Linked DNA regions of Homo sapiens. The protein of the gene in region 2 purifies or fractionates together with the protein of the main gene of each other region. This does not show direct contact. Each region holds a gene or a part of one and is shown on either strand. Other genes may lie near its edges.

What was found. Proteins that work in one complex are often made in the same cells at the same time.
Region 1: the proteins of AHCTF1 (region 2) and NUP37 purify together in Homo sapiens (affinity purification with western blotting; 2 studies listed by BioGRID and IntAct, with this or other methods). This does not show direct contact.
Region 3: the proteins of AHCTF1 (region 2) and NUP133 purify together in Homo sapiens (affinity purification with western blotting; 3 studies listed by BioGRID, with this or other methods). This does not show direct contact.

Annotation. Positions count from the first base shown.
Region 1 is NC_000012.12:102,072,585-102,075,147, forward strand, and holds the end of NUP37 (nucleoporin Nup37), read right to left. Parts: intron 2,511-2,563; coding exon 2,417-2,510; intron 1,884-2,416; coding exon 1,770-1,883; 3' UTR 519-1,769; downstream 1-518. UniProt on the Homo sapiens protein: Component of the Nup107-160 subcomplex of the nuclear pore complex (NPC). The Nup107-160 subcomplex is required for the assembly of a functional NPC.
Region 2 is NC_000001.11:246,928,926-246,936,948, forward strand, and holds the start of AHCTF1 (protein ELYS), read right to left. Parts: upstream 3,024-8,023; 5' UTR 2,653-3,023; intron 2,434-2,652; exon of another isoform or gene 2,403-2,433; coding exon of another isoform or gene 2,383-2,402; exon of another isoform or gene 2,302-2,382; coding exon of another isoform or gene 2,204-2,301; intron 1-2,203. UniProt on the Homo sapiens protein: Required for the assembly of a functional nuclear pore complex (NPC) on the surface of chromosomes as nuclei form at the end of mitosis. May initiate NPC assembly by binding to chromatin and recruiting the Nup107-160 subcomplex of the NPC.
Region 3 is NC_000001.11:229,439,741-229,442,374, forward strand, and holds the end of NUP133 (nuclear pore complex protein Nup133), read right to left. Parts: intron 2,301-2,634; coding exon 2,164-2,300; 3' UTR 519-2,163; downstream 1-518. UniProt on the Homo sapiens protein: Involved in poly(A)+ RNA transport. Involved in nephrogenesis.

The sequences.
Region 1 (2,563 bases), on a different chromosome or scaffold from region 2:
AATTCTTGTAAGAGTCACTATTGATAGCCCTTTGGCTATCCTGATGCTTTTAGGAATCCTTGCCCCATCACAGAGATTCTTAAAGAGAACCATGTCAAAATTCCTTGCTCTTTGCTTTTTCCTTTGTTAGTTCAAAATCTTCTTATGAAGGGGTAAACAAAACAATTTATATCATTTGGTTATAATATTTAACTGTATTAAAAAATTGACTAGGAAATTGCTATAAAATTTTTCATCTGTACTTTAAAGCATGTAAAAGTTGAACCCAAACATCTACATGGTTATAAAATTTCACTGAATTCTTTCTTTTAATTACCTGGAACATTCTCCTATCTCTTAAAAATATAATGTTCTTGATTCTACAATTATTTTAAGACACCTTAAGAATAGAAAACTGGAGTAAAAAATATTTACTGGCATTAAACATAAATCTCTAAAACCTCAAAAATAAGACCTACTCATCTCTGAAATAAATAATTTCTATACATCTCTGAACCACGTGACAGACACATACTAGGTATTTTCATTCACCTTTATTTAATCTTTACAGCAACTCCACAAAATAATGATTCCTATCTGTACTTTACAAGAGGAAATGAAGCTTCAAAAAGGGCATTAACTTGCAGGAATGGGCAGTTTGTCAAAATGTATTGGATTCTGTATGTGACTGACAAGCAGAACCATAATTTTATATGCTTCTGACTGTACCATGATGTATCCCAAAAATGTGATACAGCTGTCTTAGATAACGTTGATTTTAATGATCTTTGAGAGGGTGAACACAGTTCCATTGCCAACAGGTCCCATCTCAAAAACACTTAAGTTTCTTGGTAAGAACAGTGAAAATTCACAAAAAGGAGGCTGTTAAAGGTATACACTAGAAGTCATTTTTCAAGGTAACTTTTGATCCCATATATCAGATGTTCTAAGACTGTTAGAACACCTCGTCCAAAGGAATCTGCGTATAATAAACAGGGTTGAGCAATATAATCAATCACATATTTAAGAAACTGAAAACAATTTTTTACATTAAATTGAGTACACATACACATATATATACTCAACAACCACTTCCAGAATACCCTAAGATATTTTTTTCTCCTTGGATTTTTTTTCTTTTGAGATAGTCTCGCTCTGTCGCCCAGGCTGCAGTGAAGTGGCACGATCTTGGCTCACTGTAACCTCTGCCTTCCAGGTTCAAGTGATTCTCCTGCCTCAGTCTTCCAAACCATGCTTGGCTAATTTTTTTTATTTTTATTTTTTTAGTAGAGATAGGGTTTCACCATGTTGGCCAGGTTGGTCTTGAACTCCTCACCTCAAGTGATCCACTCCCTTCAGCCTCCCAAAGTGTTGGGATTACAAGTGTGAGCCATTGTACCTGGCCTTTTTTTCTCTTTTGATAAATGTGTCCCTGAGAATTAGAAAAACAGCATATACTCAAAGTATAGAAAACAGGATACACTTCAAATACTCCTTTTTTGATAAACTCAAAAGCATTATTTTTCCTTAGTCATCTCTTCTCTGGAGGTGAGCTGCTGAGTCAATATGATTTTGTAAGATTAAAAATATATATATATACACACACAGAGAACAGAGTAGAAAAATAATTTTTCAAACCATCAACATTTTATTTAATAAAAGCAACTGAGACATTTTCTAAAGTATACGGTATATTTGATATAAAAATTCTTCAAAATATGTACTATAGAAATTCTTCAAAATATGTACTAAAAATACAAAGTTTGTGAATCTAAGGTACAGAAAACACTTTATACTTCAGTCACCCAAAACAACAGCTTGTGGTCTCCTCCAATTACACACAGAGGGAGAGTTCGATGCCAGGACAGTCCAGATCCAACGGCTACAGAACCCATGAGGATGGGCTATAAAATATGTGAAGAATTAAAGAAGCACAGTAAGTCCCCAAAATTAATAAATAAAAATGACTTTCAAAAATATGAAATGCATTGATGATTTATCTTTGTAGCATAAACAAAATTTAAAAATATGCTCCCTTACAGGTGAAATACACATTATTGATACGCAGCTGAAACATGGGATACAATCCATCTATGAATAACTGGTACAGTCCAGACTCCATTTTTGCAGTCTACACCAACCAAACAAGCAAAATTAATGTATTTAAATAAAGAAGAAAATATAAAAGCAACAGAATAAAAAGCTTCTTATATGAATACTGGCCAAAAAAACCTGTTGTCACTGGTAATGTAAACATCAAAAAAAAACCACACAAAAAACAAAAACAAATGAACCACCTTTTCTTGCAATTTAAGCAGATAACAAACGTAAATGTCTTCAGTCAACAAATTACAAATTTGGGGCTATGAGTGGAAAAGTCAAAAACACAAATTAAAAAAAAAAAAAGCACGTATGTTACAAAACATTTCCACATTACCTGAGGGTGTCCTAAATGATGAATTTGAAACTGGCTTGCCATTTTGCCAGGATAACCAGTGGTTGCAAACAGATTTTCACTAATTGTGGACCACCTAAGAAATAAGGAAGCGTAAAATTAAGTATCGTATCCTATGGATAATGACAA
Region 2 (8,023 bases):
AAACACCGTGTTAGTAAAGGAATGCAAGGTCAAGAAGATAACCTTCTTCCTGACTTTAAGGAGTTTACAATCTAGAAAAGGAGATATATAGTCAATTATCAGAGTATCAGACACAAAGAATAAATGCTACTACAATAGAGGTACATATGCTGTGAGATCCCAGTAAAAAAGTGGGATAAGGGGAAATAAAAGAGTACAGTGGGCTGGGTGCGGTGGTTCACGCCTGTAATCCCAGCACTTTGGTTGGCCGAGGTGGGCAGATCGTCTGAGCTCAGGAGTTCGAGATCACCCTGGGCAACATGGTGAAACCCCGTCTCTACTAAAATACAAAAAATTAGCCGAGTGTGGCGGCGCGTTCCTGTAGTCCCAGCTACTCGGGAGGCTGAGGCACAAGAATCGCTTGAGCCCTGGAGGCGAAGGTTGCAGTGAGCCAAGATCACGCCATTGCACTCTAGCTTGGGCTACAAAGTGAGACTCCGTCTCAAAAAAATAAAAATAAAAATAAAAATACAGTGAAAACATTGGATTTAGAAGGAGGACCTGAAATTTGAGTATTTAAAAAAGGAAAGATGGCACTCCAGGATGAAGGACATGAGCAAAGAAACATCAGAGTGGAAACATCTCTTCCACAGAATGAGTCCAGGATTGATGACGATTCTGGAATAGCAAAAGCATAAAATTTGTTAACATATGAGGATAGACAGTAGCATATACTTATTGTAGAGACCTTTGAGCTAACCGAGGGAAGTTACACTTCATTCTGGGAAGAAAGAAAAGTCCCTGAAAATATTAAAGGTAGGCGTGAAAGACACAACGTTTTGCTTCCTCTTAAAATATATCTGTACCAGCCGGGCGCGGTGGCTCACGCCTGTAATCCCAGCACTCTGGGAGGCCAAGGCGGGCGGATCACGAGGTCAGAAGTTCAAGACCAGCCTGGCCAATATGGTGAAACCCCGTCTCTACTAAAAATACAAAAATTAGCCGGGTGTGGTGGCGTGCGCCTGTAATCCCAGCTACTCAGGAGGCTGAGGCAGGAGAATCGCTTGAACCTGGGAGACGGAGGTTGCAGTGAGCCAAGATTGTGCCACTGCACTCCAGCCTGGGCAACAGAGCAAGACCCCGTCTCAAAAAAAAAAAAAGATGTATCTGTACCTATGAAAAAGGAGAAGCATAAAAAGAAAACAAAAGTCTCAAAACTGATGTATAACGATCTTTTTTATTTTATTTTAGCAACAGGTTCTCGCTCTGTCACACAGGCTGAGTGCAGCGGCGCGATCCTAGCTCACTGCAACCCTCGAACTCTCAGTTTGAGGCTGAAGCTCAAACGTTCCCCCCGCCTCAGCCTCCCAAGTAGGCGCGCGACTAGAGGCGCCACCAATTCCCGGTTGACATGATGTTTTAAAAATTTTTTCAAGATAATTATTGTTGTTTGCAAACTCGTGACAGCTTGGTAGTATGTTACTGAAGGATCAGGATCCAAAAATCACAGTACAGAGACAACGTAGACTTCCCATAGCGCTTGGCACACTTAAAACATCCCTTCAAGTATTAACCTTAACTGGGCTTGTCATCCCAGGTCAAATCCTCCGAAATAAGTAAACCACTCTAATTTCTTCTCTCCTAAGAGACTCTATCAGTGAAAGCTCACAAAAAAACAGTTTAAAAAAAAAAAAGGGGGGGTCTCGCCATGTTGCTCAGGCTGGTCTCAAACTCCTGGGTTCAAGCGATCCTCCCGCCTCAGCCTCTCAAAGTGCTGGGATTACAGACAGGAGCCACTGCGCCCAGCCAAAGACAGTTCTTAAAATCTACAGGTTCTTTAGGATATTCTGAGAATAAATATCGTTTAGGATTTCCCCAAAGGATTTACGTTTTGTTCTATGAAGAACCCAGTTCTTCCAAAAATTTCTACAACTGACGATTTGGAAATAAAAATAACGCTCATCTCATAAAACTTTGCACACAGATAGTATGAACCTCGTAAGCTTTGAGAACAAAATTTCCCCATCTCTCAAAACAAAACACCCAAACCAAAACAGTCAACCAGTGGCAAAAGAAACCGTCCTGTTTCCCAGGTAGGAAAAAGGAAGGCAAAGCACCCCAAGATGTGCTTTTATTTTAAATCTCCTTGATCTGACCAATCGGGTGAGCTGGAACCTCACGGCTGAGCCCCGAGTCCAACTTCTTCCCCGCCAGGACTACTCACTGTGGCCAGGCCCAAGCGCATGTGGAACACACGCCAACACAGGACAGGCTCAGCACGCCGGCCGCTTCCCTCGGGGAAAGGCCCGCCAACGAGTCCATCGCGTGGGAGAACAGTGGGAAAGGGTCGCGGCCCCGGCCGTCCGTAAAGGGACCCGACTGCCGGCGCAGGACGCGAACCACCAGCGCCGCTCCGCCGCCATGTGCCGCCGCTCCTCCGGTCCGAGATTATGTAACGAAGCCCGGCGCCCGCGAGCCTGCCGTACCCGCCACCGCCACCGCTCGCCCCCTCGAGCCCCATCCGTTGGCCCCGCGCACGCCCGGCCTAGGCCCGGCGCTCGCGGGGCAGAAGCCCCGCCGCCGCCGCCGCCGCCGCCGCCGCCGCCGCGGGTCCAGGCCGCGCGACCCGCCCTCCGCCGCGCGGGCCCAACCCCCTCCCTCCCTTCCCCCTACCTGAACGGGGCGGGTGAGCGCGCCGCCGCGGGCCGAGTCCACCGGGTCGCCAGGCCAGGCGCGAGCTCCTCCCGTGCGGGTCCGTCACAGCATCTCCCGGGAGACGTGGCCGCCACGGGCCGGGCTCACACCCCTCCGCCCGGCTGAAGCCGCTCCTCTGCGCTCCGGCCGCCGCCTGCGACCTCCCCGGCCACCTCAGAGCCACACGCCCCCGAGAGTGCCTTCGCGGGCTGTAGGCCTGCAGACCGCTCAGCGGCTAAAACGCAGTCGCTGCTCCCGCCGCGCTTCTGGGTCCTTCCCCTTGCAACGCTGCCTGCTCGCCTCGGACAGCGCCGGCCCCGCTCTGCGCATTACCCTGCGCCGACAAAACCGAGTTCCACACGCCCCGGAAGGGAGGGAGCAGAGGAAAGGGCGGAGAGGGAGGGGAGAACCGGCGGGAGATCGCGGCTGCAGGGACCAGAGTTCTCGCGATGGTTCCGCGCTCTAGCGCCGGCTCCGCGGGAATTTTCAAACTCTCGGTGAAAGAAGGAGGTGGGAGGGAAAGGGAGGAAAGAGAAGCAGGGCCTGGAAGGGCGGATCATTTACAAAAAAATCGGGTCTCTCCGCCTCCGAGGAGCTGGTGGGGAGAAAGACTACGAGTCCCACAGTGCCTTGCGCGTGAAGCCGCCCTGGCGGCCCCGGCGGCGCGCCCCGTGCGCAGTTGGGAGTGGTAGTCTTCGCTGGGGGTCGCGCCGGGCTCTGCCAGCCGCCTGCTGCGATTGCAGGCGGACTCTCTTGTCACGTAATCGTGTGGCCCTGCCAGCTGGGGGCCGAGTGATAATCTTTCTCCCATAATTGGCAGCTTGCATTCTGTATTTTCTGTTCTGTGCTCCCACTTTTCTTTTTTTCTTTTTCTTTTTTTTGGAGACGGAGTCTTGCTCTGTTGCCCAGGCTGGAGTGCTGTGGCACGATCTTGGCTCACTACAACCTGTGCTCCCGCTTTTCATGCCAAAGGTGGGCTCCCAGACTTCTGGGGAAACGCTTTTTCCACGGTGCTGTTTTTTCTAGCATCCTCCTGTGCTTTCATGGCCAAAAATGCTCGCGCAGCCTAGCCTAATCTTTTTAGTCAAAATTTTACCCCAAATCACTGTTATCTTTTTGGTCACCGCGGGTTTTCATTGTGGAATTTCTTATTTCTTGTTAGTATCTTCCTTTGAAGCAAATCCCAGCGCCAAACATGTTTCAAACAGATAGGGAACGTATCCTTAATACTAAGTAGTAAGTAAAAGGATTATAACATGAGGTAGAGTAGGGATTTTAAGAAGATGCTCTTTTATCAGGAAAGTTTCTACTTTTCTGTTACCTTTCATATGTGCTTTTTAAATTTTTTTATTTTTGAGACAGTGTCTCGCTCTGTCGCCCAGGCTGGAGTGCAGTGGTGTAATCAAGGCTCACAGCAGCCTCGAACTCGTGGGCTCAAATGATCCTCCTACCTCAGCCCTCCAAGTAGCTGGGACTATGGGCATGGACCACCATGCGCCACTACGTCCCATTAATTTTTTTATTTTATTTATTTATTTATTTATTTATTTATTTGAGACGGAGTCTCGCTCTGTCACCAGGCTGGAGTGCAGTGGCACAATCTCGGCTCACTGCAACCTCCGCCTCCCAGGTTCAAGAGGTTCTCCTGTCTCAGCCTCCAGAGTAGCTAGGACTACAGGTGTGCGCCACCATGCCCAGCTGATTTTTGTATTTTTAGTAGAGACAGGGTTTCACCATGTTGGCCAGGATGGTCTTGAACTCTTGACCTCGTGATCCACCTGCCTCAGCCTCCCAAAGTGCTGGGATTATAGGCGTGAGCCACCGCGCCCGGCCTTATTTTTTATTTTTTGTAGAGACTGTCTCACTGTGTTACCCAAGCTGGTCTCTACTCCTGGGCTCAAGAGATCCTCCTGCCTCAGCCTCTCAACGTGCTGGGATTACAGACATGAGCCACCATGCCCAGCCTATTTTTATTTTTGTAGAGACTGTGTCTTGCTGTGTTGCTCAGACTGGAGTGCATGGCTATTCGCAGGCACTATGGCCTCATCAGTGCCACTGCTGCCTCCAACTTCTAGGCTCAAGCTATCCTCCCACCTCAGCTTCCCGAGCAGCTGGGACTACAGGCATGGATATCATGCCTGGCCCATATTCTTTCAGAGATAATGCTGCCTTTTGGAAATGTAATTTTCTTTTTTCTGTAATTTTTGTTTCTTTAGTAACAGCAACCTCCATACATATCATGTTTGTTTGCACAAGGTATTGGACCAAGTTGTGATAGAAACAGTTAAAAAGAGTACTGCTTTTGCAGTAGGAGGTTTGGGGTTCGTTGTCTTAATTATTTTAAAGAGATCTCTTCAAACAGAAACCACCCTCTGTTGGATGTGCTGATTTATGTCACATGCTCCATATTCTACACTTTCTTTGGCACTGTTTTATGCCCAGTTCATGAGTACTGTACCTCTCGATAGTCAGAAGACATGAATTATCAACTCAGGTGTGCTGCTAGTGAGCTGTGTGACATTAGGAAAATCAAGTGACCTCTCTGGGCTTCAGTTATCAGATGTGTAGAGCAAGGGATTGACTGATTCATTAGACAGATATTTATTAACTTTGCTCTAAGAGCCCTTCCAGTTGTGAAATTCAAAAATCTATTTTAATTGCACATATTATCCAGATTGACTGTCTACATAGTCTTTCAGATTTTAATCCTTTCCATCATTATCAACAGAATGATTTCTGTATCATTGTCTATATTTTTATTATTTACTTATTTTGAGACAGGGTCTTGCTCTGTTACCCAGGCTGGAGTGCAGTGGCACAATCTCGGGTCACTGTAGCCTTGACCTCCTGGGCTCAAGCAGTTCTCCTACCTCAGCCTCCCAAATAGCTGGGACTACAGGTGCATACCACCACTCCTAGCTAATTTTTGCATTTTTTGTAGAGACAGGGTTTCTTCATGTTACCCAGGCTGGTCTCAAACTTGTGGGCTCAAGTGATCTGCTGGACTCAGCCTTCCAAAGTGCTGGAATTACAGACGTGAGACACTGGCCTGGCCTGTGTAATTGTCCATAATCTAGACCAACTCTACCTGTCGTATTTTATTTCCCTATATAGTTCCTGAGCTTTGTTTTGTTTTGTTTTGTTTTTTAACTCTCCAAACCTGTTTTCTCTTTCAGTGTCTCCCAGCCTCTTCTCTCCCTGAGTAAATCTTAACATCCCTCAGGGGCCAGCTCAAGCCTCTTTCCTCTTCCCAATCTTTTCTTCAGCTTCAGCCCACATGAATCACTAAAAACTTGAGCGAAATATGCTGTCTGAATTGTTTCATGTCTGTTTCCCTTTTTGCCTCTGACTCTCTCCATCCACCCACCATCTCCATCTCCCAGCTGCACTGGGAGCACAGACTGTATCTTTTTAAAATGCTTCCCCCATAACTGCTAGTTTTTTATTTTAGTTGCTTTGCAAACTGAATTTCCAATTTAAAGCTCTCATTCAATCCTTTTTCTTCTTTCTTTCAGACATTTAACTAAGCAAATACCAGATTATTTTAATTGGTTTCAAGAGATGTTAATAAGTGTTAAATGAAGAAAAATCTAGATTTGGTAATCAAATGAGTTTGGGGGAAAAGCTGATTAAATAAAAATAAAAATGTATTTTCTGTAAGACTTCACTGGCTTTAATATGCTTGGCATTCCCCAGAGTTGCTTGACCATGGCATCCATTTGCACTTGTGTAACATCTTGCCTTATTAGTGCTTCACAGAACAGACTCTGGTAAACACGGCTTCAAAGCTTTCTCTCACTGGAAGAAGCATGTTGTGGTGAAAATAATGAAATCATTTGGAGCCAGACAAACTTGGGTTTACTGCGTTTCACTACTTTCTAGCAACATGACTTTTATGAAATTACTTCACTCTCTGAGCCTGTTTTCTCAGCTAAGAAGAAAAGATAATGTCACTTTCTTTGCAGAACTGTTGTAAAGATGAAAGGGAAGTACATGCCTTCCTTAGAACCTCATTCCGTTTTCACCTATATGGTCCTAAGTTATGTTGGTAAAAGGCCTAGAAATGGATAATAACTGGTACAAATCCTCATGCTTCCATCTGGAATATTTGATTCAAGAGACAATATTTTTAAAAATTTTATTTATTGATTGATTTTTGAGATGGAGTCTCACGCTATCACCCAGGCTGGAGTGCAGTGCAGTGGCATGATCTCAGCTCGCTGCAGCCTCCGACTCCCGGGTTCAAGCGATTCTCCTGCTTTAGCCTCCCATTGGGATTACAGGCCTGTGCCACCACTCCTGGCTAATTTTTGTATTTCTAGTAGAGATGGGGTTTCACCATGTTGCCCAGGCTGGTCTTGAACTACCGACCTCAAGTGATCCACCCGCCGTGGGCTCCCAAAGTGCTGGGATTACAGCATGAGCCACTGCACCCGGCCAAGAGGCAATATTTTAATACCATTCCAGCATCCTGGGAGTGACTAGCGGCCATCTGATTTCAGGGAATTCAGGACTTCATTGAAGCGTTCTGAGTTAGATCTCCAATTGTTTTGCAAAGTAACAGGGAAAGCCTTATTACTTTAACAACAACAAAAATGGAGCTTATCTGTCTCGAGCAGAGAAAACTGTCTTTGTCCTAACAGGTACATGTTCATCATTTTTGTGCAGTTGATTGGTTATAGCAAGCAGTGCCCACCCTTGATTTCTCCAATTGACAATAAACTAGGTGAATGAACAATCATATTTTTCCTGTTCCCCACTCTATGTCCAGTGATGGCACAATGGCCAGAGCGTAAATACTAAAATCATTGTCTAGTGACTGAGCAAATAATAATTCATCATTCAAAGCAAAATATGCAAAAAAAAAAAACAAAGCAAAATATGCCATATTAGATTATAAGGAACCTTAGAGATATTCTAGGCCAAACACCTTATTTTATAGGTGGTGAAATGAATTGTCAAATGATTTGCTACAAATTTTTTGGGATGGATTTTTTGTTTTGTTTAAAAAATAAGCCAAGTGCAGTGGCTCACAGCTGTAATCCCAGCACTTTGGGAGGATGAGGCAGGCAGATCACCTGAGCCCAGGAGTTCCAGACCAGCCTGGGCAATATGGCAAAAACCCATCTGTACAAAAAATACAAAACTTAGCCGGGCATGGTGGTACATGCCTGTAGTCCCAGCCACTTGGGAGGCTGAGGTGAAAGGATCACTTGAGCCTGGAAGGTCAAGATTGCAGGAGCGGTGGTCGTGCCACTGCACTCCAGCCTGGGTGACAGAGCAAGAGACCCTGTCTCAAAACAAAACAACAACAACAAAAAAAAAATTGTAGGGGCAGCAAAACTTTACC
Region 3 (2,634 bases), about 17 Mb from region 2:
AGCCTCAAAATGTCCAGGTGTGTAGGATGTAGGTGGGTGATGGTAGGAAAACTACGATTCAGCCCCTAAAGTAAAAAAAGAAACACAGTTCAATCATTAAAAATGAAAGCCCTCAAAGAGAGGCGTCAGTAGCCTTTACCTCACTCAGGAGTTCAGCAAGTTTTTACTGTCTATCTCCAGGTCTGCTGCAATCCTTGACACCATTCTGTCCACAAATCCTCCAGACGCGCCAGTCTCCATGCCTGCGTACACTCCCCTCTGCTCAGGATCGCACACGACACTTTACTCTTGTATTCTGTCAAGGTCCCAAGCTGGGACTCTCAGGGCAGCACTTATAGACAGGTGTGATCACGAACCTTTTCCAAGTCAGTAAAGTATCTCTTTCCACAGAAATGTCAACACAGCATCTGTATACTTATCAGCTACTTGATTTATATAAAAACCATTAATAACTCGTTGATGAAGACTACGTTGTGAAACCAATTTTTAAAATTCTAGAGAAAAAATTATTCAAAATCCTAGGTCTTAATTTCATTTTTACTGTTAAAATAATTTTTAAAAACTCAACCATTTGGGTGTAATAGCTACTAACTTAGAGAGAAACAGGATTAAAAGAGGGAGCTTTTTCTTCCCTTGAACAGGATGACTCTACTTCACACGGTAAGAGCAGTCGTTCTACGTCCACGCGATCAGTGGGTTCTGGGGCATGATCAGATGGGCTTTCCTGCGGTACTGTCCCATACACCAGGGATCACCAGGTTTGCAGCAGCACGGGAGGGAGATGGGAGCCTGTGTGTCTCGCAGCACATTATCACCCGACAGGGTCCTACAGGTGAGACGTGAACACTGACAGCTGACCTCCACGTAAAAGCAAAGCCTCATCTTACGATACAAGTACTCAGCGGTTTCTTACTGGCCATCTGACAAGCTGCTCTTCCTAACTTCTCTTAGTACCTTCCAACATGTTCCTAACCCAGACCCTAATGCTGTCCTAACATACAAGCTGCAAAGAGAAAAAGAACAGGCTGCTAATTTCTTCCCTTTGATTTACAAACAGCTCCATTAACCTGCTCTTCCAAACATACTCAAGGGCTGGCCTTGCAGCCTGCGGGGGAGACGGCCTGATGCTGGGCTCTGTGAATCCAGGAACCGGACTCTTCACCATGTTTAACTTCTGACCTTTTCAGCTGCTGGAGCAAGATGGTTAGTGGGCATTCTACTGGGCCAAGCCGCGGACATGCCAGCAACTCCCTGTCCAACCTCTGGCCTTTATTTAAAACCCAGATAAACATTGAGTGAGTGATGACACTGGTCAGGACAAAGCTCTGAGAGTACAGTACCTTTCAGTCACATCAATTGCCATATTAGGAAAACCTATAATGGTTTCTAGTATCATTCATGCTTTTGACTAGCTAGGCAGACTGTGGTAAAGATTCATGAGTCATTCTGAAAATACATGAGGCTGGCTGAATCCCCACACTGAAAGATTAGAACTAAACATCAACAGTAATTTCTAGATAGGTTAGAAAACCACATAAACGTTTCATTCACTAAAATACTTTCATTAGTGCTCATTTATTATTTATGTAGAAAAGTTTAAAATGCTCCCAATGAGTTCATCAGTTATCAAGCTCACATGAGTTAGGCCCACTCTCCTTTGGTTTTTCATCTCATAATAAGTCAGCAAAAGTTGACATTTATCTTACTAGACATTTCCCATTAGCCCTAACTGAAACAGATATCAAACACCCTAGATTCTCTTCAGTGCAAAGTATCTGGAGTCACAGCAATTTTAGAGACAAGCTAGTGCAATCTAGTAATTTTCATAGTCGCAGAAACTGAGGCCTAGAAGTGATTTGTACATGTGAGCAGCTAGAACCAGGACAAGAACTCCAGAACCTGGGACCACGTGAGAGTAAAAAGAAAGGGCACCGAGTACAGGAACAACAACTGACACATTTCAGGTGGAAAAAACAAGTCACATAACTGAAAACCAAAATCACAGTTACATAACTATTTTATATTAGCTTCCTACATATAAAGTATAAAAACTCAGCTATACATGTTATGAAATTGTACAAACTTACACTTGTTTATGGCCTAAAATTTGTATAAGGACACACTTATACAGATTTCATAAACAATGGCCATTTTTAGAAAAAGTTATATTTGTCCCTGAACATAATATTCATAATTTGCTTTCAAAACAAACTCGAAGTAAGGATTGGACTTTAAGCTTCCAAGCTGATCCGCTTGTAGCAGGTCTTTCACCTCCGGTAAGTACTCACTGAGCTGAATGCCTATAAACACAAACACAAGAAGTCATTTTTCAATTATTATAAAATGCTCAAATGAATTCTGATGATTGATGACAAAAGCACCTGTGCTTCTATTTAAATATAACGTCACTTTGCTGTTGGGAAATACTCTCTTCTAAATTCCTTCCATCTGTCAAACATACTTTCAAGTCTAACAATGTGATATCCTTTACAGGGGCTGCCTGAGTGTTTTTCCCTCCAGTGGTCAAAATAGCCATTCTATTTAAAGTGTTTAATAAGATCTGAAACGTTTTCATGTATTCCCAAGCTTGAAAACAAGTATTTCAAACACTTATATGATCCCCTATTTAGGGAA